Homo sapiens: one gene and its partners. The gene in region 1 interacts genetically with each later gene. Each region holds a gene or a part of one and is shown on either strand. Other genes may lie near its edges. The genes, in order: CCNB1, GRB10, PLEKHO1 and NAV1.

The links.
Region 2: changes in CCNB1 (region 1) and GRB10 together harm fitness more than expected from each alone (negative genetic interaction), as found in Homo sapiens cells (one study listed by BioGRID).
Region 3: changes in CCNB1 (region 1) and PLEKHO1 together harm fitness more than expected from each alone (negative genetic interaction), as found in Homo sapiens cells (one study listed by BioGRID).
Region 4: changes in CCNB1 (region 1) and NAV1 together harm fitness more than expected from each alone (negative genetic interaction), as found in Homo sapiens cells (one study listed by BioGRID).

What each region holds. Positions count from the first base shown.
Region 1 is NC_000005.10:69,165,565-69,173,649, forward strand, and holds the start of CCNB1 (G2/mitotic-specific cyclin-B1), read left to right. Parts: upstream 1-1,585; 5' UTR 1,586-1,698; coding exon 1,699-1,719; intron 1,720-2,343; coding exon 2,344-2,514; intron 2,515-2,608; coding exon 2,609-2,779; intron 2,780-5,705; coding exon 5,706-5,888; intron 5,889-8,085. UniProt on the Homo sapiens protein: Essential for the control of the cell cycle at the G2/M (mitosis) transition.
Region 2 is NC_000007.14:50,666,250-50,674,334, reverse strand, and holds part of GRB10 (growth factor receptor-bound protein 10), read left to right. Parts: intron 1-4,471; coding exon 4,472-4,613; intron 4,614-8,085.
Region 3 is NC_000001.11:150,148,331-150,156,415, reverse strand, and holds the start of PLEKHO1 (pleckstrin homology domain-containing family O member 1), read right to left. Parts: upstream 6,501-8,085; 5' UTR 6,159-6,500; coding exon 6,129-6,158; intron 5,820-6,128; exon of another isoform or gene 5,505-5,819; coding exon 5,358-5,504; intron 351-5,357; coding exon 210-350; intron 1-209. UniProt on the Homo sapiens protein: Plays a role in the regulation of the actin cytoskeleton through its interactions with actin capping protein (CP).
Region 4 is NC_000001.11:201,781,496-201,789,580, reverse strand, and holds part of NAV1 (neuron navigator 1), read right to left. Parts: intron 7,406-8,085; coding exon 6,712-7,405; intron 6,176-6,711; coding exon 5,729-6,175; intron 4,272-5,728; coding exon 4,230-4,271; intron 3,153-4,229; coding exon 3,004-3,152; intron 1,114-3,003; coding exon 943-1,113; intron 1-942. UniProt on the Homo sapiens protein: May be involved in neuronal migration.

The DNA of each region.
Region 1 (8,085 bases):
CCATCCTGGCTAACATGGTGAAACCCCGTCTCTACCAAAAATACAAAAAATTAGCCGGCCGTTGTGGCGGGCGCCTGCCGTCCCAGCTACTCGGGAGGCTGAGGCAGGAGAATGGAGTGAACCCTGGAGGTGGAGGTTGCAGTGAGTCGAGATCGCACCACTGCACTCCAGCCTGGGCGACAGATCGAGACTCCGTCTCAAAAAAAAGTAAAAAAAAAAATTTTTAAACTGGAACACAGAGGATAAGTAATCCTGCTTCGCCCCTTGCCTCTCGCCCCTGCATGGGGCGAGGAAGGATTGATCAAACCCAGAAAGACTGAGTGAGAATGGATGTTGAACACAGAACTGAAGGATGAATGGGAGTTACCTGAATAGAACCCAGGGGCTTGAATGCAAGAAGAGGCGGGCATTCCAGGCAGAGGAGAGCAAGGGTAAGGGCCCCACGGGAGGCATTCGAGTAGGAGGGTGAACTATGATGACAGAAGACTCAATAACGATCCAAAGAAACCAAATGATTGGGCGCCTTCTTTCGGATCCGTGACTTCCAGCGCCAGGAGTCTCTATTGGCTCTTATACCGTTGCTCTATGGGATAGCAATGTTTTTGTCCTTCAGCCTCCCCTCCAATTGCTGAGCTGCTGGTGTGTTTTGAGGAGTAGAAGGCAAAAAGAACCCTCTTGTTTTTCTTTGGATCTAGAGAGAATCTGAGCAAATGACAAAGCAAATGGGGTAAAATGTCTTTTTGTTTAGTTTTTCCTGATTTTCCCATGAGAGGCAAATACATGTTAAGGATAGTTGAATCTGAGTAAAGGGCATAGAAATATTCCTTACAAGATTTTTGTTGGCAACTGGTCTAAGTATGAAATTATTTCCAAATAGAAAGCTAAAACAAACAAAACAATTGGCCTTGGGAAACTGGACAATCTTGAAGTAATCAAGTAATATTGTTAAGGGACAATCAGTGTTGTGAAAACAACACGGATACACCCCCTCCCTCCCCCTCAAAAAAAAAAACCCTAAATTCAGTTCCCCCGTTGCTAATGTGTGACCCTGGCAAAGTCATCTAAGTCGCTGAGCTTCAGTTCCTCCAACCCAGAGAGTTGTTGCAACGATCAAATGAAAGAATGTCTATTAAAGCCTTTCATGAACTATATTATTGCTGCTACCGTAGAAATGGAAAGTGTGCAACACTAGATCCAAAACTACTTTTGACACTTCTGAGACTGTGGCCGCGCCTCTGTCACCTTCCAAAGGCCACTAGGCCTTTCCTGAGCTGGCATTGGCAACGCACACTCTTGCCCGGCTAACCTTTCCAGGTGGGCGGCGCACTGGCTTCACTGCTCTCCAGGTGGCCGCTGCAGCTGCCCGAGAGCGCAGGCGCAGAGGCAGACCACGTGAGAGCCTGGCCAGGCCTTCCGGCCTAGCCTCACTGTGGCCCCGCCCCTCTCGAACGCCTTCGCGCGATCGCCCTGGAAACGCATTCTCTGCGACCGGCAGCCGCCAATGGGAAGGGAGTGAGTGCCACGAACAGGCCAATAAGGAGGGAGCAGTGCGGGGTTTAAATCTGAGGCTAGGCTGGCTCTTCTCGGCGTGCTGCGGCGGAACGGCTGTTGGTTTCTGCTGGGTGTAGGTCCTTGGCTGGTCGGGCCTCCGGTGTTCTGCTTCTCCCCGCTGAGCTGCTGCCTGGTGAAGAGGAAGCCATGGCGCTCCGAGTCACCAGGGTGAGCCGCTTCGGACTGCGAACTAACGCGGCCTTCTTAGCTGCTGCCTGCTCTCCCTGCCTCGCCTGCGGGAGCCTCCCGAGCGGGAGAGGGCCGCAGGAGCGATTTGGGGAGGAAGGTGGGAGGGGACTCACCAAGAGAGCGCCGAGGTGGGCCCAGGCCTGGTGAGAGAGTGTGGGGGACGATGGATGGAGGGAGGAAGGTGAGAAAGAGAACTGGACGGATATTGGATAAATGTTTTGGGGAGGTGGAGAGTCGACTGGGAACCTTTTGAAAAAGTGATAGAGGGTCCCTGAGTGGGCCCGCCAGCAACTCTGTAACCCCCTTCCCAGAGAGAAGGTGTCTGCAATTGGAGGCTTTTTCGGTTTCCTTTCAAATGTAAATTCTCGGTATTTTAGGGCTGGCCAGGACTAATCAGGGAATCCCTCAATTGGTAAATGTAGAGGTCGGCGGAAACTGACTTGTCACGGCCGCAGAGTAGACTCTGGGACCCATGTTTTCCCTCGGAACCCATTTTTAGTCGGCTTTCTTTCTGGGAACTTCTCCTTGTGCCCCACCTTAATTAACCCTTGACTTACTCGAGCCTTCGTGGATCAGCTCTTAAAGTGGTCTTGCTTCTTTCAGAACTCGAAAATTAATGCTGAAAATAAGGCGAAGATCAACATGGCAGGCGCAAAGCGCGTTCCTACGGCCCCTGCTGCAACCTCCAAGCCCGGACTGAGGCCAAGAACAGCTCTTGGGGACATTGGTAACAAAGTCAGTGAACAACTGCAGGCCAAAATGCCTATGAAGAAGGTAACTCTCTTCCTGACCTAACTTCTGTAAGAGCCCGCCTTCCAACTGTGGCCTTTGATGCAGAAACATTTCATTCTCTCTGTTTCATCTACAGGAAGCAAAACCTTCAGCTACTGGAAAAGTCATTGATAAAAAACTACCAAAACCTCTTGAAAAGGTACCTATGCTGGTGCCAGTGCCAGTGTCTGAGCCAGTGCCAGAGCCAGAACCTGAGCCAGAACCTGAGCCTGTTAAAGAAGAAAAACTTTCGCCTGAGCCTATTTTGGTAAACTTATTCTTACCATTGTAGAGTCTGTTGATTATTTCTTGTCCCTTATTTCACTGATACATGCAAGAGCATTCAAATGAATAGTAATATTAATACCATTTATTGAGTGCTTAGCATGAGGCAAGCTCTGCCTAACATTTTACATGCATTAACTCACATAATCTTTACACGTACTCTCTGAGGTATTGTCACCTCTACTATTTAAATCATGGCTTTAGAGAGGTTATGTCAGGGTCACACAGGTAAGTGGCCCATATGGGATTCAAGCTCAGGCTGTCTGGCTTCAGAATCTATGCTTTTAATTGTCAACTGTCTTATATTCCTTCGTTAATGATATTAAGTAGTAGCTGTCTGAGCCAAAGGCTTTGTTATCCAACTACAAGCCATCTCTGCAGAATTTATTGGCGTAAACATAGAATGTTCTCTTGAATTTTTTTACTGCTGCATATGGCTACTAAATAATAAGCCTGTAACATTGGAATATGCAAAGGAGTAAAACAGGAAGAAGGCAACTTTTCAGGGAGTGGTTAAGAAGATGAATTAACACTTAGCCTCAAAAATAATAACTTTTTATTAAATATAAGGTATGTAAATGTATTCTATGATAGACCTACCTGTGAAGGAAAGGTAGGTCATGTAGAGGAGGCTGCTTTGATGAAATTGCAATGAACTGTATTCTGAAGCTCTGTTTTTTTAAACTTAGTTAAAACCAGTTGGGAAAATTATCTGAAAAAAACTTGTTGAGACAGAGTCTGGCTCTGTTGCCCAGGCTGGAGTGCAGTGGCGTGATCTTGGCTCACTGCAACCTCTGCCTCCCAGGTTCAAGCAATTTTCCTGCCTCAGCCTCCCTAGTAGCTGGGATTACAGACGCACGCCACCACGCCCAGCTAATTTTCATATTTTTAGTATAGATGGGGTTTCACCATGTTAGTGTACTCCTGACCTCATGATCCGCCCGCCTCGGCCTCCGAAAGTGCTGGGATTACAGGCGTTAGCCACGGCGCCCAGCCAGTTCAGCTTCTTATATCTAAGGATAAGAGATTGAAAGCTATTGCTTTAGTGTTGAATTTCTGGGCATAGCACATGAAATATGTAGCCAGCACAGTCTTTGGGCATATCAAACTACGTGAGGCTTTCTTGGAAGGCCCATACTGATTCTTACCTTTGCTTTCCCACTTAGTAAGAATGCCTTCCCCACCCTGTCTTTCATTTAGCTAATAACCTTTTCATCCTTGAAAACAGCTCAAGCATCAACTCCTGAAGCTTTCCCAAACTTCCCCCATCTCCACCCCCTGTTCCTAGAATCAGTCTTTTTTTTCCCTTTGAGACAGAGTCTCACTCTGTTGCCCAGACTGGAGTGCAGTGGTGCCATCTTGGCTCACCACAACCTCTGCCTCCCGAGTTCAGTGATTCTCCTGCTTCAGCCTCCCAAGTAGCTGGGGCTACAGGCACATGCCACCATGCTTGGCTAATTTTTGTATTTTTAGTAGAGACGGGGTTTCACTATGTTGGCCAGGCTGGTCTCGAACTCTTGATCTCGTGATCCACCCGCCTCAGCCTCCCAAAGTGCTGGGATTACAGGTGTGAGCCACCATGCCCAGCCTTAGTCTTATTTTTGTTTATTTTTTTTTTCCCAAGACAGAGTCTTGCTCTGTCACCCAGGCTGGAGCACAATGGCACGATCTTGGCTCACTGCAACCTCTACCTCCTGGGTTCAAGCAATTCTCTTGCCTCAGCCTCCTGAGTAGCTGGGATTACAGGTGCCAGCCACCACACCCAGCTAATTTTTTTATTATTTTTTTATTTTTTTATTTTTAGTAGAGATGGAGTTTCACGATGTTGGCCAGGCTGGTCTCGAACTCCTGACCTCGTGATCTGCCTGCCTCGGCCTTCCAAAGTGCTGGGATTACAAGCGTGAGCCACCATGCCCGACCTTATTTCTTTACTTTGTCTACTAAATTCAGAGTCCTTTGAGGATGCCATGAAGTCAATGCCTTGTAGAGTTTGACTTCAAGAAGGTGCTCAATAAATGTTTGAACAATGGGATAAAGGGAGCTTGAAGGAAATGGTTAATGGCGATGAAGTTAGTTAATCCTTAGTAGTCAGGATAGAATTTGTGTTGAGTAGTGAGAAGCAGTTTATATTATGAAATAAAGACTAAAGACTGAATTGTCATTTATTTGGACTAACTTCACATGTTGCTGATAAAAATTAATTACTTCTCAGTTTCCTTTGCAGCAAAGTCTAGAATGTGAATTTATTTGCTTCCAACTTTAAACTGACTCACTCTAAGTTGGCATTTCACTGTTTTTTTTTTTGCCCAGGCTGGAGTAGAATGGCGCAATCATAGCTCACTGTATCCTCAAACTCCTGGGCTCAAGTGATCCTCCTGCCTGGGCCTCCTGAGTAGTTAGGACTGTAGGCAGCTGCCTTCATGCCCAGCTAATTTTTTGTAGAGATGAGTTATTGCTATATTGCCCAGGCTAGTCTGGAACTCATGGTCTCAAAGGATCCTCCCACCTCAGCCACCCAAAGTACTGGGATTACTGGCTTGAGCTGTTATGCCCAACCTCATTCTTTTTAATTGAGGAATTAAATGATCACTTTTTTCTTTTTTAACAGAGACAGGGTTTTGCTATGTTGCCCAGGCTGGTCTTGAACTCCTAGCCTCAACCTCAGCCTCTCAAAGTGCTGAGATTAAAGGTGTGAGCCACCGCGCCCAACCCAAATGATCACTTTTGATGTTAATCACTTCCTAAAAAGAAATGGAATAAATCTGAAAAGATACTTTTCCTTTAAGGAAATGAATTGTATGCCGATTCAGCAGAATACTAGCTTGAGTTGGTACCAATAACCTGAACTTCATGCCCAAACTATAGTGCTTACTTCTATTTGCTATTTCAAGATATCTCTTTGTTTCAAGGTTGATACTGCCTCTCCAAGCCCAATGGAAACATCTGGATGTGCCCCTGCAGAAGAAGACCTGTGTCAGGCTTTCTCTGATGTAATTCTTGCAGTAAATGATGTGGATGCAGAAGATGGAGCTGATCCAAACCTTTGTAGTGAATATGTGAAAGATATTTATGCTTATCTGAGACAACTTGAGGTAAGTATTATCATTCGTTTTTTTTCTAAACTGCATCTAACTTTATGAAAGTATTTTCCATCAATAGTTTATAATAATACAAGCAGGACGTGGGCAGCATTTCTTAAGAGATCGCACTTTCAAATTCTCCTTCATGGAATACCTATAATAAAAAGTCACTAAATAAACCAATGGAGTCTATTTGTCACTTTGTGCAGGAAAGTTCGAAGTTAGGGTGGATACTACTATCGCTTTCTAAAGGAAAATCCACAGATTGAATTTGATATGTATATATGCGATCTCCACCACGTTTGGAATGGTTAAGTCCCAAACTCTGCATTTTAGGTGATAACGGGTCAGGAAGTGGATGAGGATGTAGAATATACTCAAAGACTACAGCCACCCCTAACACAAGGCATTTTGTGTTAGTGTGGCTGATGTGCATCCAGTTGTTGGTGAAATTATTTGTGCCCAAAAGGAGTACACTCAAAAGCTACTTTTTTGGTTCACTTCAATTTGATCCCACTTTTGAAACTTTCTATTAATGGCATTTGCCCTTTCCCTACAAATACAAGCACTCTTTATGGCAGCATAAACATAGTAACATAAATTATACTGTTACCACATTTACGTAGTTTTTTTGTTGTTGTTGTTTTGTTTTTTTGAGATGGAGTCTCACACTGTCGCCCAGGCTAGAGGGCAGTGGTGCGGTCTCAGCTCACTGCAGTCTCTGTCTCCTGGGTTCAAGCAATTCTCCTGCCTCGGCCTCCCAAGTAGTTGGGGTTGCAGGCACACACCACCATGCCTGGCTAATTTTTTGTATTTTTATTTGGTTTTGGTTTTTTTGAGACAGGGTCTTGCTCTGTTGCCCAGGCTGGAGTGCAGTGGTGCAATCTCGGCTCAGTCCAGCCTCCGCCTCGGGTCAAGTGATTCTCATGCCTCAGCATCCCGAGCAGCTGGGATTACAGGTGCCCACCACAACACCCAGCTAATTTTTGTACTTTTAGTAGAGATGAGGTATCACCATATTGGCCAGGCTGGTCTCGAACTCCTGACCTTAGATGATCTACCCATCCCGGCCTCCCAAAGTGCTGGGATTACAGGCCTGAGCAACCGCACCCAGCCCCCAGTTGTTTCTAATGTGTTGTCTTATGTCATCACTGACATGTTCATCTCTTGCCTGCTCCTTTTTGGCCTCTCCTTTTTCTATAGGATTCTTCTGCAAGACTTCTTTGCCAGGAGCAGCCTTCTGCTTTTAGTTTCTTCTTCCATCTTTCTAGTGCTTTTTAAAGTTGTGTTCTAACTTTGGAGGATTCAATTTAGTAAATGTGCTGTTTCTTTTTTTTTTTTTTTTTTTTTTGGGACAGAGTCTCGCTGTGTCACCTAGGCTGGTGTGCAGTGGCACAATCTCGGCTCACTGCAAGCTCTGTCTCCCGGGTTCACGCCATTCTCCTGCCTCAGCCTCCTGAGTAGCTGGGACTACAGGCATCCGCCACCACGCCTGGCTAATTTTTTATATTTTTAGTAGAGACGGGGTTTCACCGTGTTAGCCAGGATGGTCTCAATCTCCTGACCTCATGATCCACCCGCCTTGGCCTCCCAAAGTGCTGGGATTATAGGTGTGAGCCACCGCGCCCAGCCTGTAAATGTGCTGTTTCTTGATGCTTCGTTCTTGTTCTGTGCAAGGCCATTTATGCAAAGCAACCCCTCAAGTGGCAGAGGAGCTGAGAAACCAAGGAATTAGGCAGATAAATGGAGTTTGCTGGTATTGGGTGACTGATGAGGGGGAATTTACAGACATAAGTATGGTCTTTGATGGCTGTAAGATGTAGATCTCTGCACTGTAACCCCTCGTACCCACGGCTTGGGTATGTATACATTTTCTTGGGCAAAGTATACATGCTCTAGAATCAATGTGTGGGTGGCTGACAGAATGCTGCAGACATCACAGCCTATAATGTATACAATAATATCAAGGGCTGTTTTGGAGGAAAGGCCAAACTTAAAGTGAATAGGCAGAAGTCACATTGAATTAGTATTTAAAATAAAGTCACTGTTGTCCCCACAGTTCTTAGCTATGTTGCTGTTGGGATTTAACCCAGGAGCAGGCAGGAGTGTTGTAGTACATGGGTTCCAGCTGCCCTGGGAGTTACTGATATTTTCTCTACATAAAGCTCAGGTTCTAAGTTTAGAGGCTTAAGTGAAAAGATCTGAGATG
Region 2 (8,085 bases), on another chromosome or scaffold:
GTCTTGCAAAGTCAAGAGGCAGATACATTGCTTTGATGGGATAACGGATACACTGAGTGTGTGCAGTGTGCCGCCCTTGGGTTGAACTTTGTAGCCAGTTCAATTCCAGTAGTACCTTTTATTGAGTGCCTGCTATGTGCAAGGCACTGTGCTAGGTAGAGGGATATGCAGGAAAACCACCAGAGGAAAAATCTCTGGAAAGATTGGAAGAACAGCCATGGAGCTGATTGCATGCCCCAAGTCCTCACTACCCAGAGTAGGGACGGGAGGCTAGCAGCTACAGCACCCCCTGGAGCTTGTCGTGCAACCCCAGACCTCCCTCAGAGTTGCATTTTGCCACATTCCTCTGCTAATTCAGGGGTAGGCACATCTCTGTGGAAACAGGGAGGCTGGAGGGAGGAACGTGCTGGGGACGTTGAGGGAGGTTCCTGGGAGGTAGGATTTCTGAACGGATGTCAAAGGGTGATAGGAGCTCAGATAGATGGAGGCAGAGGTTTTGTGAGCAGAAGAGATGATGCAGATGGGGGCCGGTGCTGAAGCACTTTGTGTGCCTTTTTCAGGAGCCACGTGAGAAAGAGTTCTGGACAGGCGTGTGAAGGGGCTGGGTTTGGGTTTTGACACCAGCATTCTGGTTGCCAGGGGTCGTGGGGGCAGTGGTAGAGGGCAGCAGGGTTGGCAGAGCATGGCCGGTTTGGAAGTGGTCTCAGGAGCCCCCGGATGGGAGATGATTGTGCGCTGCCTGAGGATGAAGAAGGAGGGGGGATTTGAGCACGTTGCTGAGGAGGAGCAGCTGCGTTTTGCCAGCACTTGAATTTTGCCAGGGCTGTGAGGAGACAGAGAGTGTGTGGAGGGTGACTTGGATTTTGTCTCGAGTGCCTGGGAGGAGGGTGTCTAGAGAATGGTCATGTCGAAGGTGAAGGTGCTGAGAGTACCTTAGACATTCTGAATGAAGATCTTTGTAGAATCAAGCTGAGAGCCAGGGGCAGCCCTCAAGGATCCGCCTGTCTGCCCTGTCGCAGTCGGGATGGCGTGGGGCTCCGTGGGACCCTGCGTGCCTCTCTGGGCCTTTGCGGAGGATGTACAGCCATCTCTGCTGGGACTGCCCCTTGCCCTCACTGGCCTCTGTCAGGATGGGGTTCTGGTGCCTTCTGTCTCAGCACCCCATCTTCCGGGGAGCTCTGTTCATTTCCTGGGCTCTTCTTGCTTCTAGAAACTTCTGAGAGTTTTCTTTGTGGTCTGACATCTTGGGTCTTCCGCAGCCCAGATAATCACCTTGCCCCAGGTGGCAGCTGTTTCTTACGGAGGGGAGAGGGTGCAGCGGCCCTGGCGCCCGTGGTCAGCTGCCTCCCCAGCTTCCCACCCCGGCTTCCCCTCCGACTTCTCACTTTTTGTCATATTCATTGATGCTGAATGATGCCTGTCCCAGGGTTTGTTCAACTTTGCTCTTTGAAGCGTGACCCCTTGTACTTAGCTCCTGAGGAGTTAAGTCTGGTGGGAGAGCTGTTTTTCTCTTGGGAGCATCTCTTGGGAGCATCACAGTAGCCTTGGGGAGTGCCTGGGAATATGGAGGTGCAGTTGCATGGCGAAGGTGCCCGAGGGTGGGCTGGAAAGCCAGAAGGCCTGCCTCCCTGCTGGAGTAGTTGCCCAGGACCCTTGAACCTCGAGTTCTGGCTGAACTCGCCCATATGTGCCCCGGGACTACCTGCGCTAAGTCCCTGGGATGGAGGGGCAGGCTTGCTCTGTGGGACAGCAAAGCCCTCTCCCTACAGGGTCACAGGTGCTGTTCCTTGGGCCCAATGTCTTCTCTCTGGTGTCCTCTCAGATAAGTAGTTTTGTTTCTTACTTTCAGGTGGATTAAAAAAAAATGTGGAGATCAATCTGGAATCACCAAAGATTATTTTGTGAAGTGAGGCCATTTGCTGAGTGCTTACTGTGTGCAGATGCTGATGAGCTCCTCCTTGTTATCAGTGCCCTCGGAGGGAGGCAGTGTGGGTTACCCTCGCTTCCCAGCTGAGGAAACCGTGGCACAGCGGGGCGGTAACTGGGCTCACCACATCAGGTGGGAAGTGGCCATGGAGCAGGCTGCTGGGTACCAGAGGTCACGGAGCATGGTCCACGCTGCAGAGGAACTTACCGGGGGCTGCCATGCAACCCGAAGGGAGCTGGGGGGCAGGCAGGGTATGGGCAGAGGAGACACTTGGGAAGGGCAAGAAGGCTTTGCACATAGGAAAGCCGATGGGTGAGCCGATTCTGTACAGAGAAGGAACCCAGGCTTTTGAGAGTGCAAGGGCCACGCATGTGTTCTAGACAAACACAAGTGAGCCAAGGCACAGAGAAGAAGGACCTCGCCCCTCAGCTCTGCAGTTCCTGCCACCATCCCTGACATCCCTAAATCTCAGCACCCCTCTCCATAGTCACTGTCCCTTCTATTGTGAGCCTCTTTGGTGGGGATTTTTTGTCTTTGTGTGATATCCCTTAGTCTTGCCTTAGGCGATGTCTCTGAGCCGCTTTAAAGTCAACACAGGACTTTTTAAAATGCTCAAAACAACCCAATAAATAGAGAAGCTTTTGTGGACACTAAAACGTCAGATTATCTTTTTGGGGTGAAGTCACTGGCTAGAAGCCGTGGATGGGAAAGTGGCACTGGCCACCCGTTTTATCCATCTCCTCCTGTATGACAATGGCCAGACGTTTCAGTTGGACGCCTTGCCAAGGCTGAAGCTGTTATGGGAAGAGTGGGATTTGTTCACAGTAAAAATAAACTTTATGGCATGTCATCAAACCATTATAGGAACGGCTTTCCTGTATTTCGCAGCACTGATTCCCTTCATGCCATGTGAGTTCTCGTAATTTTAAATCCATGCATCATTTGCTGGTCTACGTGGGATAGTTAGCTGGATCTTCCTTTAAAAAATAGGGAAAGTTGGTAAAAGAGAAAAAGTAATACAGTCACAAAATGTGTTTCTGTAGTGGCAAATCTCCTGGGAAAGCTAACGGATTGTTGATTTTGTGAAATCGTAAAAATTGTCAAAAAAATTACTTGAGGACACAGCCTATGATGGGGGTTTCTGAGGTATGTTTAAACATGGGGAGGGATTGGAAATGCCGAGTGAAGATAATGTGAGGTTTGCTCCCCTCTCCTTGAAGGTAGGAGGCTGCAGACAGGGCCGCGTGGCCTCAGGAAGGGTGGAGGAGGCTGTGTGTCCAGGAGTGCCCTGGAGGTGTGGGCCAGAAGTTACTCTACAGAGGGGAGGTGCCAGACACTTGACATTCGCTTTGACTTTGAACTTGATTTCTCTGCTGTTCACAGTTGCTTCTGATTCGTCATACTGTGTGTGTGTTGCATAGTTGTGTGACAAGTGGGTTGTGCATTTTTCGGAGGAGGGAACAGATGCCCCTGGAGATGTGCCAGGAAAGTAGAGGTGGTGTGTGGATTCAGCGTGTGTTTCCAAGGTGTGTTTCTAATGTGGACACAGGCTTTGCGAGGACAGATACATGAAGCTATAATTTCCAGTTAATTCAGTGTCAACAACCTTTTTATATAAGTAACCATCCATTGCATAATTCAGATGAGAACACACAGCCTTTTCTTGTATTTTCATTTGATTAGATTAATGCTCATTTCAAGGACATTGAAAAACACTTGGTTCTCATGAAAATGCTCATATTCAGAAAACTTTCACACATCAGGTATTCACTGATCAAACGGATGAGGTATTTGGAGCTGATGCCATGTCAGGCACTGAATGCTGCCTGAGATGAGCACGCACCCAGGACAACAAAACTTCGGCACCCCGCCCCCCGCCCCCGATGCCTAATGAAGAAGAGAATTGATACCCAATACCCTTTGGGTCTGAGAATGACAACTTGTAATTTTTTTAAAGTTTTCGTTTTAGTAAAATACATGTAACATAAAATTTACCATATTAACTGTTTTTTTCAGGGTACAGTTCGGTAGTATTAATGCACACTCACAATGGTTGTACAATCTCCAGAACTTTCTCATCTTATGAAACTGAAACTCTGTCCCCAATAAACAGCGATTCCCCATTGCCCTCCCCTTAGTCCCCTGGCAGCCACCCTTCTATTTTCTATGGGTTTGAATACACTACCTACCTCACTGGGTGAAATCACACAGTGTCTCTGGTTTTGTGACTGGTGTGTTTGACTCTGCATAATGTCTTCAGGGTTCATCCGTGTCGTAGCCTGTGTCAGAATGTGCTTCCTTTTTCATGGCTGAGTAGTGTTCCATGGTATGGATATGCCACATATTGTTCATCCATTCATCCATCTGCAGACCCTTGGGATGCCTCTACTTTTTGGCTTTTGTGAAGGATGCCACTGTGAACGTGGGCATGCCAGTGACTCCTAGAAGCCCTGTGTCCTGCTTTCTGGGTGTATCACCACAGTGGTAAGGCTGGGTCATGTGGGGAATGGCAGCTTTTAACAGGCACTTATCCCTGCCTTCCAGGCGCCTTCAGGAGGAAGACCAGCAGTTTAGAACCTCATCTCTGCCGGCCATCCCCAATCCTTTTCCTGAACTCTGTGGCCCTGGGAGCCCCCCTGTGCTCACGCCGGGTTCTTTACCTCCGAGCCAGGCCGCCGCAAAGCAGGTGAGTGTGCCCCTGGCTGGAGCCCAGGCTGAGGGATATGCCAGATTATTGGGATCTGCACAGATGTGCCAGATTATTACTTTGGGAAGAAGGGCGGGAAGTCCTGGGATCTTCTCTCTCAGTTCTTTTCTTGTTGTCACAGTACTTGTTGTCCTATGAGGCCGATACAGTTTGGATGTTGTCCCCTCCAAATCCCATGTGGAATTGTAATCCCCAATTTTGGAGGCAGGGCCTGGTGGGAGGTGATTGGATCTTAGGGGTAGATTCCTCATGGCTTGGTGCTGTCCTCACAATAGTAAGTTCTCACGAGATCTGGTTGTTTAAAAGTGCGTGTCATCTCCTCCCCTTGCTCCCACTCCTGCTGTGCGAGACGCCAGTTCCTGCTTTGCCTTCTGGCATGATTGTAAGCTCCTAAGTCCTCATCAGAAGCCGAGCACATGCCCGCACCATGATTCTTGTACAGGCTGCAGAACCATGAACCAATTAAACCTCTTTTCATTATTGATCAAAACTCTGTTTTATCTTTATATTTTAGAAAAAGTCTCATAAAAAATGGCAAATAATAACAATGATTTGATGTTTAAAGATGAATCTTAGTTCTTTGAAAAAGTTTCACCACTGGCTCAATAATAGGTGTGAAAATGCTGGGCTCACCCGGGCACCTGGATGTCAGTACACAGGAGTTGAAGAGTTTCTGTCTTGTAGTCCTGACTTTGAATATGATCTGCCGAAAGCAGAAGAGTTTCCATTGGACCCGCAGGGCAATAACCTCCTTTTTGAACTTGTAGTTTCTACTTAAAGTAGATCCATGAAGTAGATAGGACACAACCATTGTCCCCATATGAGGAAACTGAGGCACAGAGCATTTCAGTAATGTGTCCAAGGTCAAACAGCCAACAAGTCAGCTTAGCAGAGAAACTGGCAGAGAAAGGGGTTGAAAGTTCCTCCCCACCGGTTGGCAGGGCTGTGAGCCAGGATGGGCTGCAGCCTCTGGAGGAAGACCCCTAGGGGTGGAGGTGATCATTAGAACAACTGCGCCATCTGATGTTTATGGAGTGAGGGATTTCTGTGTGCCAGGCCTTGTCGTAAGTGGTGGATATGTTTATTTTTTGTTTATTTATATGTTCATTTACTCCTCATGCCATCCCGTATGAATTAAGTACGCATGTTCCCTCTGTTCCACAGTTGAGGGAAGGGAGGCCCCTGTAAGCAGCTGAGCTGAGTGTGGCTGAGACCTGATGGTGCGGCTGAGTGTGACCCGGCCTCAGAATCGGAGCCTGTGATTGCAGCCACTGTGCTGATTGGCTTCCCGGGACTTTGACTTTCCTTCTGCTAAATGCATATTTAGAAGTCATTTTGCCCTTCTACTTGAATCATCTCTTCTCCCTACTTGCTCTCACTTCCCTACCTTTGCTGTTCTCAAGCAAGACAGGCCAGCCATCCCTTTCTCTGCAAATCTGCCTGTCCTGTGCCATGCAAGGTCTGTCCTCTTGAGAGAGAGACCTTTTTCCAATACCCGCTGGCTCCCAAGTGTGGGTCCCGTTCTGACCTCAGGCCCCCGGAGCAGGCTGCATTATGGCACTATCAAAACTTAGAAGGTGAGGTAAGTGTCCCTCATCTGGGAGCCAGCACTGGCTGGGCTTGTGCACTTTGTCACATGTCTAAAGTGCATCTGGGATGTCTACCTCGCTGGTGACCTTCTGCTTCAAATAAGGATCCAGACAAGCTGTCTGTGGGTTTTGTCACTGAGGTTGTTTACAGAGCTACCCATTCTAAAATAAGACCATGAAAATATTATCTGGCTCTCTCAGCCTTTGGCAAGAAAATTGGCCTCCACCCCCAGGGATTGTCCAAATTTGTAAGCAGAACAAGGAAACCGGGGAATTTTGCCTGCTGGTGTTTTTCTTGGGATCAGAGCTTGTTCCCCATGAGAACGTGGCATTGGTGTCTGTGTCACTCGTGTCCTCAAGCCCACAGAAACGACCAGGAAGGATGTTTCTCACTCAGAACTAGAACTACTTGTAGAAAGTCCTTGTTCTTTGTTCTTTTTTTTTTTTTCCCGACTTGCTTGAAGGGATATTTCTTTATCTGTACTTGGTGTTGACTTCTGATCTCATGAAAAGTGTGTTTTCTCAGTGCAGTCGGTAGCAAGTGCTGGACAACCTCCAGCCACTTCCCAGGGCTTTGGATCTAGGATCACGGTGGGGGATGGTGCTGGGCAAAGAGCTTTGGCTCCATTCCTTGCCCCTTGCTTGAGGAAAAGAGAAATCTGATGTTCTTCTTCCCTTCATTCAAGTCAGAGGAAGTAATGCTGAGACCAAGGTCTAGTCAAGGATTCTGAAGTAGTAGAAAAATTGACAAAGTGGACCCGATACATAAAGTGGCTTTGCTCACAGGGAAGAACTCAGTTAACGTAGGAAAAGAAGAAAGCATAACGAAATCTATGGAAGGTAATGGGATAGTGAGGTGATTGGAAACTTCCTCATTCATGTCATTATGTTCACTATTAAATAGCAGATTCATGAAGAAGGCAACGGGAGGAAAAAGTAGAGATATTTAAACTTCCATGAGAAAGGAAAAATCATTCTTGCCCAAGCTTTGTAGGCAAAGCCTTCTGAAATTCCCACACAGGCATTAGTACCTTTCTTCTGCCTCTCTCCTTTTTTTTTTTTTTTTTTTGAGACAGAGTCTCGCTCTGTCGCCCAGGCTGCTGGAGTGCAGTGGCGCAATCTCGGCTCACTGCAAGCTCTGCCTCCTGGGTTCACGCCAGTCTCCTGCCTCAGCCTCCTGAGTAGCTGGGACTACAGGCGCCCGCCACCACGCCCGGCTAATTTTTTGTATTTTTAGTAGAGACGGGGTTTCACCGTGTTAGCCAGGATGGTCTCGATCTCCTGTCCTTGTGATCCGCCCACCTCGGCCTCCCAAAGTGCTGGGATTACAGATGTGAGCCACTGCGCCTGGCCCTGCCTCTCTCCTTTTTAAGTGACTCCTTGGTAGCTCCGTAATGTGATAAGAGATCAGATGCTGGTGTCCAGAGACCCCAGGTCTGAGAGCAAGCAACTACCATGATGTGGACCTGGCGCTCCTCACAGCATGCTGAGCCCCCTGGCCCGCGTGCTGGGACAGGGTGGGAGAGTGGCAGTGGTCTCACTGCAGCATTTGTGGGCCCTCACGGATCTGAGTTCCACCTGCAGCTCTGGTGTGTCTCCTTTCTAGACATGTAAGATACAAGCTCAGTGCCCTGTAAAGGCTACGGGCCAATGGGACTTGATGAAAGGAAGGAGGGGAGGGAAAATTCTGCATGGGAGTAGTCATGGGTAGAGAAGAGCCCTCAGCCTCCTATTCAACAGCACGCGATTCCTCCAATGCCGCCTCCCTCTGAGCTCTCTGCCTTCGCTCACCTTGAGCCCCTACAACGGGCCGGGTGTTTTGCCAGACCCTGAGACCAAGAGGTTGACCGCAAAGTGGGCCC
Region 3 (8,085 bases), on another chromosome or scaffold:
CTTTGTGGCTGAACAGGTTAAAGGGTGGCCTGCCTGGAAAGAAGGAAATGGCTACAATATTCTCAGGTGAAATGATAAAAGCCAGCAGGAGAGCAATTCAGGGAATCTGAACCAAGATTGCTGAGAGAGAAACTGAGGGGAAGGAGTTCTCCCCTGCCCCCTCCAACCCTGTCCATGTTCCAGCAGCCAAGGTGGCAGGAGAAACATACCGTGTTACCGGGCTGTTTGGAGTGGGCAAGAGTAAACTTGCTATGATTTTTCTTGCTCCTGCTCTTGGACTTCCGGAGCTCTTCACACTTCTCATAGTCACTCAGGTCAAATACCTCTTGAATATTTTTCTCATCTTTTACCTAGGGGAGGGTTGGGGTGAGGTGAGGAGGATAAAATTATTTAGCCCCTCCACCCAGACTGTTAGTTTAGATCATCTTGGGAAACAGAGGAAGCCTGAGGAGAGGGAGGCACGCCAGGAGAGGAGAGGGCCGTCTGCCCAAAGCCTACAAGGTCCTCACATCGAGGAGGACGCTAGGGCAGCTCCAAGTCTTGAATGTTAAGGTGTGTTTCTGTTTAAACCCCTTCTCTTCACTCTCCTTAGCCAGGCTGCCATTTCCAGAGTCCCACTATGCCTCTCTTCACCAACCGCCCCACTCTTTTCCTTAAGGACACAGCTTACATGTTCTAAAAAGGCTCACGTCCTTAAAGGGACATGGTAGATGGTTGATCCATTGCCCTCAGTAAGACAGACCTGTATGGCCCTTGATGGTCCACAGAAAGAAGATCAAGGCAGGGCCAGTTATCGGGGTGTCTGGAGGGAACGAGGGGCGGTCTCTGGCCTCCCCACTCACATGTGTGCAGTATAGCTCTCCCACCCCACCTCGCTTCCTTCTCTGGTATGTACAATTATAGAGACTCATCTTCCTTGTTCATTTCAGGAGCATCGCCACCACAGGACGGCAGCCCCGTGTTCAGTTTGCTGAATTTGTCCAGAGAAGCTGAAAACTACAATTACAGTTCCTACCCTTTCCTCCTCCCTCTAAGGTACTGTGACAATCCAAACTAACTCCTCCAGACCCCCTATCTCTAGGCAAGAATGCACTTAGACTCTCCCTGGGAGACTACACTTTAGACTTGGAAAAAAGTGACTTCTGTGACTTCTTGCCATTATTCCAGTTTGAGTGCCTGGGCCCCCTTTACTGCCAGGAAGCTCTTCCTCCTATCTAAACTTAGCCCTCCCTGCTATAGTCTCCGTCCCGCACTCTGGTTCCACCTTTAGCAGGTTTTAAGCAACATTTAGCTCTTAGCACTCCTGCTGAACGTCTCATCGAGGCCGCATTCCTAGTGACATTCTCCAACCCCAACTAGCCTTTTCTGAGCACTGCAAAGCAGCTCTAGGAACATTTCTTCGCAGGTTCATCTGAAACTGACCACAATGTTTTCTCTTTTCCCCTAAGGTGGTGTTCCTACAACTCTGGGACTCTGAAGCAGTGGCTTATGGATTTGTTTTGGCTAGCAAGGACCAAAGTTACAGAGAGGAGACTTAGTTACAAGTCCAGACCGTGCAGTCTGTCCACCCTCCGTGGCTTGAGCCCAGGGTTGGAACACCTCAGGAAAAACCTGGTCACGTTTTCCTGGAATGAGAATTAAAAGCACCAGCACTTGTCTCATTAAAACTAAACAAACAGATAAAAGTAGCCTCACGTCTTCCTTGGATGACATCTACCCACCCTGACTGAAATTATTTTCCAAAACAGTCCCCAACTTCCCAAGTTCTGAAATAGGACTCGTGTGCATGGAGGTGAACTCATCTATCCTCCTGGTTCCTGGAAACCTGGAAGTGGGGAAGTGGTTCTCCCTTCCATTACCCAGACCATCTACAGTCTTGTATCTGCCCATCCTTCTGAACTGCTGCTGGACCTGGAGGCTGATGACAGATGAGGACAGATGTCAACATGGCCCCATTCAGGTGAGTGACGCCTCATACATCTACCTCCATTTGTTTCAGCAAGGCTTGGCTCCTCCAGGGCCTCCCACTTTCCAGGGTTCCCTGGCTTTGGGCTGGAAAGTGGCCAGAGGCCTTGAATGATTACGGGTGGAAGTAGGACAAGGTGCTGGCAAGGGGTGTCCAAGAGCAATTCCCAGAAACACGGGACAGGGATACAAGATGATGCATCATCCCTCCTCTCCCCCTCCTTCTCCAGAGCTGAGACTATCAGCAGAGCCCAGAAACCGTGGAGAGGAAAGTGTTGGGTGTGTGAATGTAGCCAGGGGAAGAGAGTTAACTTACTATGTTTTCCTTAGGGGAAGGGAAGGAAAGGGAGTTATTCTACCTTGCATACAGACTGATTAGGAGCTCTGGGGAGCAGGAGACACTGATAGAGGTTAGCCCTTGGTGGAGAGGGTGGGAGATGGGGTGAGGCAAGCAGTAGGACAAGTATATTCCAGTGCCTGGGAAGATGGACAAAGCCAAGCAGCCTTGTTCTCCACCATATTGTTTTTTTTTTCCCCACATATCTAATTCCCAGAGTCTCATTTATAACTACCCATCTTCCAAATTAACCCTTCCTTTCCCCTGATTCTTCGTCCTTGACTATAGAAAGGGATTTTTCCCACGCCTGTCCAAAGAGTTGCCCCGAATCCAATTTCCTCCACCATGAGGTCTTCCTAAGGTCTAGCTTCTGTTCTTACACATCAGCCTGTGATCATAAGGTGCTCCAGCCCTCTTTGAGAGAGGATGCCCTTTGAGAAGGAAGAAAATGATTACTATCGAACACAGAAGAAATTCTACGGCAGAGGTGGTTGTGGGAGACCCTGCCTTTAAGAGAGGAAATAACAAAAGAGACTGGTGAAAATTCTGGGAGATAGGGTTAGAAATTTTCTTGCATTAACAGTAAATGATATAGATTATACTCTGCCTTAAAAAAAAAAATCTTGGTCAGGGACTGTGGCTCACGCCTATAATCCCAGAATTTCAGGAGGTTGAGGCAGGAGGATCACTTGAAGCCAGGAATTTGAGACCAGCCTGGGAAACATAGTGAGACCCCATGTCTACAAAAAATAAAAAAAATTAGCTGGGTGTGGTGGTGCATGCCTGTAGTCCCAGCTACTCCGGAGGCTGAGGTGGGAGGATTGCTTAAGCCCGGGAGGTCAAGGCAGCAGTGAGCTACGATTGTGACACTGCACTCCAGCGTGGGCGACAGAGTGAGACCCTGTCTCTAAAAAACAAAACAAAACAGAACACCGTGTCTTGATTCTATTGGCCCTGGAGCTTTTCACAAGTGGGCAAAATAAAGCCCAGAGTACTCTGTCAATTTCACTTTTTAACCAGGCCCACTGTAGCATTGAAACTGGCTCTAAAAAAGCACAGTATCAATATGCCTAGTCCCTCTTTCCTGTGCCCTTCCCAGCAGGAGACAGCTGGCTCCATGACCAGTCAGATGGTCCTGACTCATAGGACACCAGATATCCTAGGCTGAGGTCATTCCATCCTTTCCTCTGTCTCTGTACCTAAAAGCAAGGATCAACTACGCTTTTGCCCCCAGACTCTGCTCTTTGGGCAAATACAAACAAGCAATGGATGTCTTATTCCTCTTACCCTTTCACTATTATGTTTTTCTCTTTGATGTGTAGGAAGTTCTCCCTGATTCGTAACTAGAGTTTCCTGCAATTAAGAAGTTCGGGGAAGACAGGAGATACACTTTGACACTTGTTTTTTTTTTTTTTTTTTTTTTTTAATTTAGAAAGCCAGAAAATTGTGGAGAAAACTTTCTGGAGGATTTGTGATTGGGCAGAGGTAACTCTTAAAAATAAATCCTCCTGGCCAGGCACGGTTGGCTCACACCTGTAATCCCAGCACTTTGGGAGGCTGAGGCGGGTGGTTCACTTGAGGCCAGGAGTTTTGAGAGCAGCCTGGTCAACAACGCGAAACACTGTCTCTACAAAAAATACAAAAACTAGCCAGACATGGTGGCACCCACCTGTAGTCCCAGCTACTCCAAGGATGAGGTGGGAGGATCACTTGAGCCTGGGAGGTGGAAGCTGAAGTGAGCTGTGATTGAGCCACTGCATTCCTGCCTGGATGACAGACCAAGAAAAGTGCCCTCACCTCACTCCTAAGACTTTCCATCACCAACTTGCTAGTTTTGTGTAAACAGCTAGGTTTCAATACCCTTAAGAGGGATCTCTTTGGCTGTGGCACAGCTTAGTTCTTCCCTAGATGCCTCAGTAGATGTTCTTTTAGATGAGTACTTTGTCTCAGGGTGTGTGTGTGTATGTTTCAATACCATAAAAGGTTTTATTTACCTAAATATAATCTACTGAATAAGGATGTCTACTGCAGAAAGCAGAAGAGGTTAGAACTCAGGGAGGACTTCCCAGTTAGCCCTGGGTGAGGGAACACAGAATACCTCCCGTGAGGGCGGGAGGAAGGGCCACTCTAACCGGTACACAGGACAGTCTTCCAGGCTATACTGACTGCCTTTGGACAGTCACAGAGGCAGGGAATGGAATGACTTCTAACCACTGTAGGGGCAATTCTGATTTCTCCACATTAGTACACGTTATTGATCCCAAGACTTAGGGAAAAAAGGGAGATGGGTCTGGATTCAATTATCATAGCTCAGGTCTTGACACAGTGTAGACTGTGGTTTTCATGGTTAACTACACAGCCAAAGCTATCCAAAGACATACAGGGGTTCTTAACTCCATTTCTCTCCCTTCTGATACAAATGGAGGGGTGGGCAGGAAGTGGGTAGAAAATGGGTTCCTTGCCTTTTTTAAATGGGGTGGGGGTGGGGAACAGAGAGCATACTGGTTAGGGACACTGGCTTCAACGAAAATAACTGCCACTCACACACCCGAGGTCACAGGGGCCTGACGGCGGGGTGCGTGTTTTCTGTGATTCAGGGCGGATGCGCCACGGACAGGACCTGTGCACGCTCCTGCCACAGACAGGAAAGGGGAGGCTGGCTGGGTTAAGGTGGGGGGACAGGAAGGGGTGGCGAATAGGCTAAACTGTTTCAGCAGAAATAGAAAAGAAATCCTATATGCAGGAGGCCAGGTTAGGGTGGGAGGCAGCAAGGGACACTTAGAACTTCTGGGGCATCTTGGGAGGGGCTTATCGTTGTTAGAAAGGTATTTGCAAACAAAAAAACACTGAGTAAGCGGCCAACTCAACTTCTAATTCTCACTCTGGTCTTCTCATTAAAGGGTGGCCTTTCTCTGCAGATGAGATGGGGGTAGAGAGGAGACCACTGAACTTGCCTTTGGAACAAAACGGGGGTGGAGTAAGCTAGGCGAGCCCTTGGGGAGTGACAAAGTGGGGGCTATGAGAAAACGGAGAGTTAGAGGCAAGAGGCACCCACCTCCTTCTCAGAGATGTAGAGCTGGTCCCCTTTCAGCACCACATAGCGGTTTTTCCAAATCTCCCTGAAAATCCCTTTCCCGCAGAATTTCCGGACCCAGCCGACCTTCTCGGGCGGTGCAGGCTGCTGGTTTCCATCCTGAGGTCCCTGCCCCAGGACAAGATGAGAAGCGGGCGGTTAGGAGATTCCAGCCGGCGCTTCCTCTCCGTCCGTCTCTCACGACCGCCTCGGCGGCCCAGTCTCCTCCGAAGGCTGCGGCCGGGGGGCGGGGGGCCGCCCCAGGTTCGCTCCCACTTCGGAAAGGTTTTCACTCCGAGGAACTCCCCCCGCTCCCCTCCCCCGCTCCCGAATAAACAACCGGGGCTGCAAGTGGCAGGGGCGCCGGCCGGGCGCGGAGAGGCTCCCAGGTTCCCTCCAGGCCCTGCGCCCCCGCCGCCCCGTCCTCGCCGCGCGGGGACTAACGGCGTTTCTCTGGTTTTCTCTCCCATTGTCTCCTCGCCACGGCGGAGCGCGAGGCAAACGCTCGCCCGGCGCCCGGGGGCGGGGGAGGTGCGGGTCGTGGGGAAACTCAGCCAAGTTGAAGCCCCCCGAGGCGAGTAAACAAACAAAAGCCCCCGCGGGCGCCTGGCGGGGCCGAGGCCGAGGGGACCGGGCCGCCGGGGCGGGGGCGCGGCCGGGCCGTGGGTCTCCCAGGCCGCCGCGGCGCCGACGGAGCGGGGGTCGTCAGAGCGCGGAGGCGGCGGCGGCCGCAGGGCGGGCAAGCGCACTCACCCGCTTGGCGGAATTGTTCTTCTTCATCATTCCCAGCGGGCGCGGGCGCGGGGCGGCGAGCCGAGGGGCGGCCCCGCGTCGGGGCCTCGGCGGCACCGCGGGGGCTCCTTCCCCGCGGGAGGGCGTCGGAGCTGCCCCGGCGCCGCCGCTCCTCCCTCGCGCCCTCCCGCTCCCGGACTCTCCCCTTCTTTGTAGCTCCGGTTTCACTCAAGGCCGGCCTCCCTCGCATTCGCACTCGCACACACACGCACGCCCGCTCCCCGCCCCTTGGCGCCCTCCATCCCGGCGCCCACGCGGCCCGGGTCCCCGAGCGCACCCCCGCCACCCGCCCGCCCGGCCCAGCGCGGCCGCTCCCCCGGCCCGGTGCGCTGTGGGCGGCCCAGTCCGCACCCCGCAGCTCCATCCGCGGGCCGCTGACGTTGCGAGTTCAGAATAAAGGGCGAATCGCGGAGCCGCAGCTCGGGCGCTCCCCCCGCCCCCCCGCCTTTGTTTCTGACTCACGGAGGGGGAAGAAGGCGGCTTCGAAGCGGCTGGAGACCGCTCCCCAGGGGGCAGGGACCCTCGCTCCGGCGGCGGCTCGGGCGACACGCGGAGCCCGAGAGACCCGGCCGCCGGCCGCCCCGGGGCCCAGTGGGCGGGCGCGGTGGATAATGGAGAGACGTGCGGATTCGTGAAGACTGGAGATCGCCAGCCTCTACAGCATCGCCTTACCCGACCAAAAACAAAAACGAGAGCGGGAACCGGGAGGGCGCGCCACCCACAACCCGCATCAGGAATTCACGCTCCTAGGTGCTAGGGTGGCCTGGGCAGGTCAGATGCTGGGGGAAAGTTTTATGCTCCGGAGGGGATCGACGTGTTGGGGGATGGGGTGGGACAGAAGTTGCTATTAATACACGTTTCTTCCAGCGTACAATGCCTCAGGCCTTATTGTAGCTTCAGGAGAATAATCCTAAGGATGAGGCGGATTTTATGATCTCCATCTCACAGGGAGAAAACGGAGACTCAGAATAGCTGAGGGATTTGCAGACACAGTGTCGATGCTGGCTTTTCAGACACAGTGTCAATGCTGGCAGGAATAGAACTCTGTCTCCAAACCATTATCCTTTCTACCAAGTGGCTTTCAATATAAGTTCCAGGTGAGGCTTAAACTTCCTGCCACCTGGGTATCTTTTCCCGCTATACTGATAGGTAAAAACCCCACCCTCTCTACAGCGCTGGAGCCCAGTGGAGGGAAGGGCTGAACGCCCAGAGAATGCCCTGACTAGAGAAGCCTCTGCTGATCCCTCCTACAGCAGATCTGCCTCAGAGCCTCCAGGACACATCTTAGTAACTTCATGTCTTTTTAATATATATACGTGTGATGGAAAAGGGGAGTGAGAAACCCCGCGCTTGGGTACTGGTTTCATCACCACTCTGGGCTTTGGTCAAGTCACTGAATTTCTTTAGGCCCGCGTCCCTCCACGTATTAAGTGGTGAGGGATGAACTGCCATTTTTATCAACAAGGAAAGCTAGGGGAAGATATGAGATGACCTCTGAGAGTCCTTTGAAGATATGTGTTGTCTTCCAGGGCTAATTTTGAAATCATAATAAGCTAATAAACACATTGCCTGGCATATGGCAAGCATGCAGTAACCACAAAATGAATAAAAATCCCTGGCACTGAGGAGCAGGGAAAAGGAAAAATCATTTTTCCAGAGATGTCTCAAGATAAAAGTGTTGGCTAGATTTGTGGTTTGAATAGTGGAGGCTCTTTTGACTTTTTCTGGTGTCTGTCAAATGAAGGAGGGGCTCCCTCTCTTTTCCAGTTCCACCTTTCCTCCTAATCCAATGATATTCCTCTCAACTTCTTTCCATTCACCATACCAATTAATTCCACGATTTTAGACTGACACAGAACTTTATCCTTTCAAAATGCTCTTATATGTCATTTCTTTACACTTTTAATGCCACCTTGTA
Region 4 (8,085 bases), on another chromosome or scaffold:
AAAGCAAGGTCTTGAGTCAAGCTAGCCTCCTCTTTCAGCCTACATTCTCTGGCAGCCTGGGTATGGCAGTCCCTTGCTTAGCCCGCTCTGAGGGGCACGGGGTTTCAGAGAAGGGAAAGGAGACTTTCATGGATAGTCATCATCTTATCTTCCCAGTCAGGAAAGCACCTTAGCCGCAGGAGAGGGGAGTTTCTCATCAGAGTTGCTCAGAACAAATACTGAAATTCTGCCCGCGCCTCCTCCTCTCAGCACTGGGGGATGTGCTTAGGATCTTGGGGATCATTCAGATGAAAACAATATTTAAGTGAGGAATATGCATTCTGATTATTCAGTAGAACCTATGGTGAGAACTAAAGCATGTCTGTAGCAGATGCCTCCTGGAATGACCATCTTGAAAATAATAATGGGAGAGCTAACCTGCCATAAGCCTGGTCTTCTAGCTCTGATCAGTACTAACACCCAGATCACCACCAACAATCAGATGGCCCTCCCTGATGCTCATCTTTGGAACATTTTTGAAAGAGAAATGAGATGCCTAATTATTTGTAAGGATTTATTAAGAGCTACTATTATGTCCTGTTTTCTTTTCATATATTTGAGAGACTGTGGGGAGGAAAGACTATGGCTAGAATGAGGAGGAGAGAAGCTGTGGTTTTCAGAGCATCCTGAGGGATGCCATTTAACCCTTCCATGCTCAATTTCCCTCCCCCAGCCCCAGTGATGGATGCTCCATCCCAATGCCCCAGTGCTAGATGTGCCACCCAAGGTTTCTGGGTCCCCAGACCCTTCAAAGGGATGGGGAGAAAAAACTGAAATGGCCCAACTTGATGTTCTGTGAATCATATATGTGTGTGGTGGTAGGAGTGGTGGGAGTGGAGGTGGTGGGTGAGGGGACCCAGCAGAGCTGGAATGAGCGTGAACCGCGCTAGCATGAAGTCTCACCATCGTCCGTGGGGTCTCGGAAGGATCCTGACCGAATCATTCCCTTGGGTCTCTCGGCCAGGGACAGGGTGCTCCCCATTTGGGAGCCGCTGTACAGCTCGAAGGCCGCCTCGTGGGTGGGGATGCTGTTGGAGCGGGTGATTCTTGGCGTGGTGGCCGCAGTGGGACTCACTGGAAGGACAGAGGGAAGGGGGACAGGAGAGGGAGCAGGAGGGCAGGAAAAGAGGCAGGGTCATCAGCTCTCCGGGCCCTTGGGGGATGGAGCACCGGGAGCATGAGAGGCAAATGGGGAGAGGGCAGGAGAGGAAGGGGCAGGTGCGGTGGTGGGAGTGTGCAAGCAGCTGGTGGTTAGGAGCGGGGTCCCTCCTGGGGAGATCAAGCCCTAATGGAGAAGGACCCTGCTGTCTGGAATAAAGACCTTCCCTCAACCCTGCCTGCCTCAGAGTTGTTGCTTTTGAAGGTTAGGCTGGGGGCCTGGCAGCTTTTCTGAGACCTTCACATCACTCGGATGTGCTGATGAAAATGAGATGCTGTGGTTCTCTAAAACACAACTGCCAGCTCAGGAGGACTGAAAATTCAAACCAAGACCCAGATCTGAATGATGAAAAAGCACCAGCTAGAGAAGGGGGCTGGGCTACGGGATCCCGTTGCCCTGGCATTGTGGAAGGGCGTGAGAATCTCCCCACAAAGTAGTGTCACTCTGAGTGACTGGGTTGGCGCTAAAGCATCAAGAAACATGGCCCTCTTTGCCTAGCATTGCCCCGGCTTGAAGGTCAGATGGACAGAGCAGGTGAAAGTGTCAGGTAAGGCTTGTGGAATGTGCTTTGAAGCTGGGTTCAGCTGAATCCCGTTAACCTGCAGATGCCTTACCCCTTTGCCCATTGCTGGGATTACAGCCTTTCAGGGTTTCATACCCACAAGGAGCTCCCTTGTCTATTCTTCTGCCTCCATACAGGCAGGTGGATGTCTAATCTGTCCATAAAGACCTGTGCAGAAGAAGATGGCACACCTCTCTGTTGACCTTTTCAAATTCCTGAGGTAATTATTGCTTAGCCCAGCCCCTCATTCTGCAGCATAAATGCAATTCTTCTTATTTGGTCTTCAATGGAGATAGAGAACAAGCTGGCCCCATCCTCCATTTAGTAGCCCTTCAGAGGGCAGATGATCCTGTCTGAACAATGGTTCTTTTCCCTAGGCCAAGTGATCCCAATTCCTAGTCTTTCCTCAAATTCCCCACAGTCACTGCATGGGTGTGTTACAGGTCCTTGTCTTTTATTAACTGATTTCTTTTACTCAGCTGAAAGAAGAGATGGATTTAAAGAGATGCAGCAAGCAGATAACAGGCCTATCCCAGGCACTATTCCTGAATGGATTCCTAGTAGGCCAATCATGGCGTACTGCTTCACAGAACCGGAGCTGGTGTGCTTCTGTGCTAGGCCAGACCCTCCACCTGATGCTTCCTCTCCTCCCTGTCTCTAAGTCACTTCCTTATTTCCTAGCTCTCCTTTCTCCCTAGGCTTTAGGAAGGGGGTGGCCAGGACACATCTGAGTCAGCCCTGCCTTCAGCGTTAGGATGGCCTGGGCTCAGCCAGAGCAGTTGAGGAATCTGGACTTGGCTGAGTTTGGAGGCAGATCTCGTCCTTGGCAATCAACAACCTTTCCCTCCTTCCTCCCCGTCGGCCTGACATTTCAGTATTGCCCTCTCATTAGCTGGCCCTAGTAGTACTGGGTGTGGTGGCTCCTTTCCGGCAGTTCAATGTGCCTGCTCTTGCACTGGTCTGATCTCTGGGCTTTGGGTTACAGCTTTTCCATGCCACCATTCAGGCTCTCTGATGCTAAAAGGACCCTACAACTTGTGCCTAGGGGCAACTTTTCAGTTTAGGATCTCAAAGTACTCTACCTTCAATCTTACTTTGGGTGGATAAACTGAGGCACCATGAAACAACCCAATACAGCATGAGTCAAACATGAGATGAAACCCAAAGCCCACCTGCCTTGCCTCACCCTGCAGGGTGACCCCTGCTTCACCCCATGCCACAGTGAGTGACTGAAAACACTAACCTATGTTGGTAAGTTGGCCCTTTGCACTCAGAGACATGGGAAGTGCAGGGGGAGAAGGCAGCTCTGACTGGTCATCGGATTCAGGCAGCCCACCAATGGTATGGGAATGTCGCCTCTCCTTGGTCTCCTCCTGGGACTGAAGCTGGTACCTGTAGGAAGCAGCAGAAGAACTCAGTCTGGGACTAGCAAGTGCGGTCAGAGGTTTAGTTGGTGCGGAGGGTGTCTGAACTAGGCTGGAGCCAGGAGATTCTGAAAGCAGGACATGGAAAAGAGGGAGTGGTCAGGGCTGCCCAAGGAGGGAGTAAGAGGTGGCGACTCAGCCTCCTCTCCCAGACCATCCAGAGGGTGTGGAAGGACTAGCAGGTATTCCCGTAAGGGTTCCTGAGCTGGGGGCAGAAGTGATGGAGGAGGCATTAGAACTTCTCCTCAGAAGTTCAGGACAGAGACTTATGATTCCACATGTGGGCTTTCAAGTTGCAAGAGTCGGTCAGGCACAGTGGCTCATGCCTGTAATCCCAGCACTTTGGGAGGCTGAGGTGGGTGGATCACTTGAGGTCAGGAGTTTGAGACCAGCCTGGCCAACATGGTGAAACCCCATCTCTACTAAAAATACAAAATTTAGCCAGGCTTGGTGGTGCACACCTATAACCCCAGCTACTCGGGAGGCTGAGGCAGGAGAATCGCTTGAATCTGGGAGGTGGAGGTTGCAGTGAGCTGAGATTGTGCCACTGCACTCCAGCCTGGGTGACAGAGCGAGACTCCGTCTCAAAAAAAAAAAAAAAAAAAAAAGTTGCAATAGTTGCCACCCAACTGAACAACTCAGTGCTGTCAGAACAGTGGATGACCAGGTAGGTCCTGCCCCTAGCCCAGCTGAGTGACCAAAGAAGCAGACTGTTCTCCCTCATACTTTTAGGGAAGAAAATTACAGAGATGAAGCTCAGCCAGGATTGGGATGGCATAGGCTAGTACAGGTAAGTGCATGATTCCCATGTGCAAACTTGTTTCTCCCCTGTCACCAAAAAAAGAACACTTGCTGTAAAAGTTGACTCACATAATATTAAGCTTGGGCAAGGTACTAGGTGGTACTTGTATGGGACCACATACAAATGATTCAGCTAAAAGGGTGACTAAATTCATGACTGGAGCCTTGGACAGGTTGAGATATGATTTTTCATACATACCAGCAGTCCCATTTATAGGGAAGAAAAAACACATTAAAGGGTTACCTGAGCCCTTTCTTGGGAAGAGTGTTCCGATCCCGCTGATTACTGTGGAGATAAAAAAAAAAAAAAAAAGAGAGAGAGAGAGAAGCATGTGGGTCCATCTTAGGAACTAGAGTTTAGGACCATTGGTGTGAGGTATGCAGACCCTAGACGCAGGACATCAAACTATGACCTGCTTTAGCTCTAGAAACCAAGAGATACTATAGCCTGCTTCTTGGCTTACAACTTGGGAAATTTATCTGAAATATTAAATGTTATTTCTCTGATTAGAAATTAAGTCATGGTTAGGCCGGGCGCCGTAGCTCACGCCTGTAATCCCAGCACTTTGGCAGGCCAAGGCGGGTGGATCACGAGGTCGGGAGATCGAGACCATCCTGGCTAACACGGTGAAACCTCGTCTCTACTAAAAATACAAAAAATTAGCCAGACGCAGTGGTGGGCGCCTGTAGTCCCCAGCTACTCGGGAGGCTGAGGCAGGAGAATGGCATGAACCCAGGAGGTGGAACTTGCAAGTGAGCCAAGATCGCGCCACTGCACTCCAGCCTGGGCGACAGAGCAAGACTCCGTCTCAAAACAACAACAACAACAACAAAAAACAAACAAACAAAAAAGAAATTAAGGCATAGTTAGTTATTTAAAAGATCATATTATGGCACTAGGGACAGTGGCATGAGCCTGTAGTTGCAGCTCCCGGGAGGCTGAGGCAGGAGGATTGCTTAAGCCAAGGAGTTTTGAGTCCAGTCTGGGCAACATAGTGAGACCCCATCTCAAAAAAAAAAAAAAAATAGATCGTATTATGGTAGGTAAAAACTACCATATAGGTAGTTTGATAACCTTGGCATATAGGGGGAAGGGAGGGGAAAACTAGGATGTGATATAAAAGAAAAGATTCTGGGCAGCCAGGTGTGGTGGCTCATGCCTGTAATCCCAGCACTTTGGGAAGCTGATGTAGGCAGATCACTTGAGGTCAGGAGTTCAAGACCAGCCTGGCCAACATGGTGAAACCTGGTCTCTACTAAAAATACAAAAATTAGCCGTGCATGGTGGCAAGTGCCTGTAATCCCAGCTACTTAGCAGGCTGAAGCAGGAGAACTGCTTGAACCTGGGAGGCAGAGATTGCAGTGAGCCAAGACTGCACCACTGCACTCCAGCCTGGGCAACAAGAGCAAAACTCCATCTCAAACAAAACAAAACAAAATGATTTTGGACTAGGAAGCAAAAGCTCTGGATGATAGGTTAACCTAATTATGAGATCTTGGATGAGTCATTTAACTTCTTTGTGCACAAGTTTCTTCATTTTTAATATAAGAATAATAATTTAAAAACAAAAACACATCTTACCTATCTCATGGAGTTGTTGTGAAGCAAATTAAATTACTTAATATATGTGAAAAAATGTCAAAAGTCACAAAATGGCAATAAAATATAGGATAGTATTGCCAATGGCAAAATGAGCCCAAGACACGGAGACAGGCCGAGGTTCTGCTGTCTTTTCTACCTACCTGTCCAGTTGCCCAGCTCTGGGGCTTCCACTCCAAGTCAGCTCTTCCGTCTCTTCTTCTGTGGGAGCAGCAGGGGGAGCAGGTGGGGTGGGGACGGGAGTACTGCTGGGGAAGGCACTGGGGAGGCTCATTGGCATCTGGAGGGACTCCATGCTCCTGTGCAGGCCTGAGAGTTTGGGGTACATGCGGGTCTCTTTTGGCACACTGAAACCACTCATTAGCTCCAGGCCCTGGGAGAAGCTGGCTGAGTTAATATTGAGGATGGGTGCCGGACTGGGGGTGAAGCAGGAAGGGAGAGGGCCCCCAGATGCTGAGCTTGTAGCATGCAGATCTGGGACCTTTGAAGCATGGGTGGTATCACTGGATGATGGTAGATCCAGACTGTTGGAGTTGACCTTGTCAAGATTGGCTAGTGAGGGTGGTTTGACAAAGCTCTTCGCTGTGGCCCTGAGAGAAGATCAAACGAAATATTTAGAATAATAGAATTACAGAGTGAGAGGCAGATAGGACCTTAAAGAAATCCTATCCAGTCTTGTTTTCTGCCTATTTGCTAAGCACAGAGGCTTATCCTAATGCTGTTGTGAAATACAATGCAAGGAAATCTGATACCCAACTTGGGGCACATTCAGCTTAGATAAGGGGCCAGCATATGCACATGGGAGATACAAGTGAATTTATGCAAATAGGTATATATGTGTAAATAAACAGTAAAAACACCCATACAAGTGCTGAAGACAGGGTAAGCATTGATCAGAGAATAGTACAAATGAGGTAAGTTTTGAAAGAGGGATTCAGTCTTTCAGAACTGTCAGAAACTAGATTCTTTCAGAACCTTGGCATATGGGGGAGAGGTGGGAAAGAGCCATGCAAAGGCCTAGAGACAACGGTGGATAGGCCATGCCTCATCTAGTCCAAGGAGGGCAGAGATATGCGAAAGAATGACAAAGCAAACAGACAAGGAGGCGGCTGCCCACATTGGGTACCTGAGAGGGGTTGGTGGCAGCTCTGCCAGCTTGGTGGCTGTGGGGTGGCTTGCTTGGTTCTTGGGAGTACTTTCTGGGGAGCCAATACTCTTCAAGGAGATGTTGTCTGAGTCCAAGGCCACTGCCTTGGCTTTGGCCTTCTCCTTTTCCCGATCTGTCTGATTGACAGGGGCTGGAGTGGTCCGCCCACTGGCTACCTTGGTAGGCTCCTTCAGTCTGGAAGGCGTAAGGCCTCCCTGCTTGGTGCTGAGGAGACTGGGGTCAATGCTGCTGCTCACAGGGCGAGGTCCACCCCGCCCGCCGGTCACGCTCATAGAACTTGACTTGGCTGGCCGGGGCAGGCTGCGGTACTGGATGTTAGAACGGGCTCCAGGAGCCAGGAATCCTGGCTCTGCACTGTTGGAAACATCTAAGCTAGTCTTGCGCCCATTTACTGGCTTGACAGGGATGCCTGAGGACTTCTGGATCTTGCTGAGAGTGGCTGAACCACCAGTTTGCATGACAGTGGCTGTGCCTGTGGCAGGAGGAGGCTTCTTGTAGCCAAAGGATCCCGAAGTGGAGGGGCGAGCAATGCCCGAGGGGGGCTTCTTAGCATCACTCAGGCGGTCCCGACCAGCATCAGAGGAGGAGCGTTGGAGCCCAGTATTCTTCACTGCAAGCTTACCCTTGTCTGTAGCTTTGCCCTCAGGTTTGCCTGCAAGAGGACGGGAAATGAGAAAAGAGCTGAAACTGACCAGTATCTTAAAAACCCACCCTTTTCTTTCCCTCCATGGGAGAAGGGAACATTGTCCATGTATTGTAGACTTTTAGAGGCCTAAATTTGGGTAAACAGGTACAAGATAAGCTGATAAAGTTTCTTGTCTGAAAGACTCTGGCTGGGAGGGGTGGGGAGGCTAGGAATTTTTTTTGTTTTGCTCCCAGAGTAGAATGGTCCATTTTGATTAAAAAGGCAGAGGCAAACACAAAGATGATCAAGAATATCCATCTAACAACTAGTTGTGGAAGGGAAAAAAAAGGTGGGGAAGCAAATGGAATAGAGTATGACAATATCTCTTAGTAATTAGAGACTACAGGAAAATGTTGATTAAGGCTAAAAGTTACCCAAGGGGCCAACTTTGGGGGCACTATAATTCTCTTGCTGTAGCCATTTTATTTATTGTTTTCTTAGGATCTTCCTGAGATGTCAAGCTGTATCCTATGAAAATAAGTGCCTTGAGTGACTAACTTGGGAGAAAGAAGAAAGCAAGCATTGGAAGTGTTTGGAAGGAGGCCAAACTAGTCTCTAAACATAATATACTTCCTCCTGTACCTCATATTAACTGGGATTTTGGCCCAGCCACTTAATCTCTTTGAGTTTCTATTTCCTCCACATTT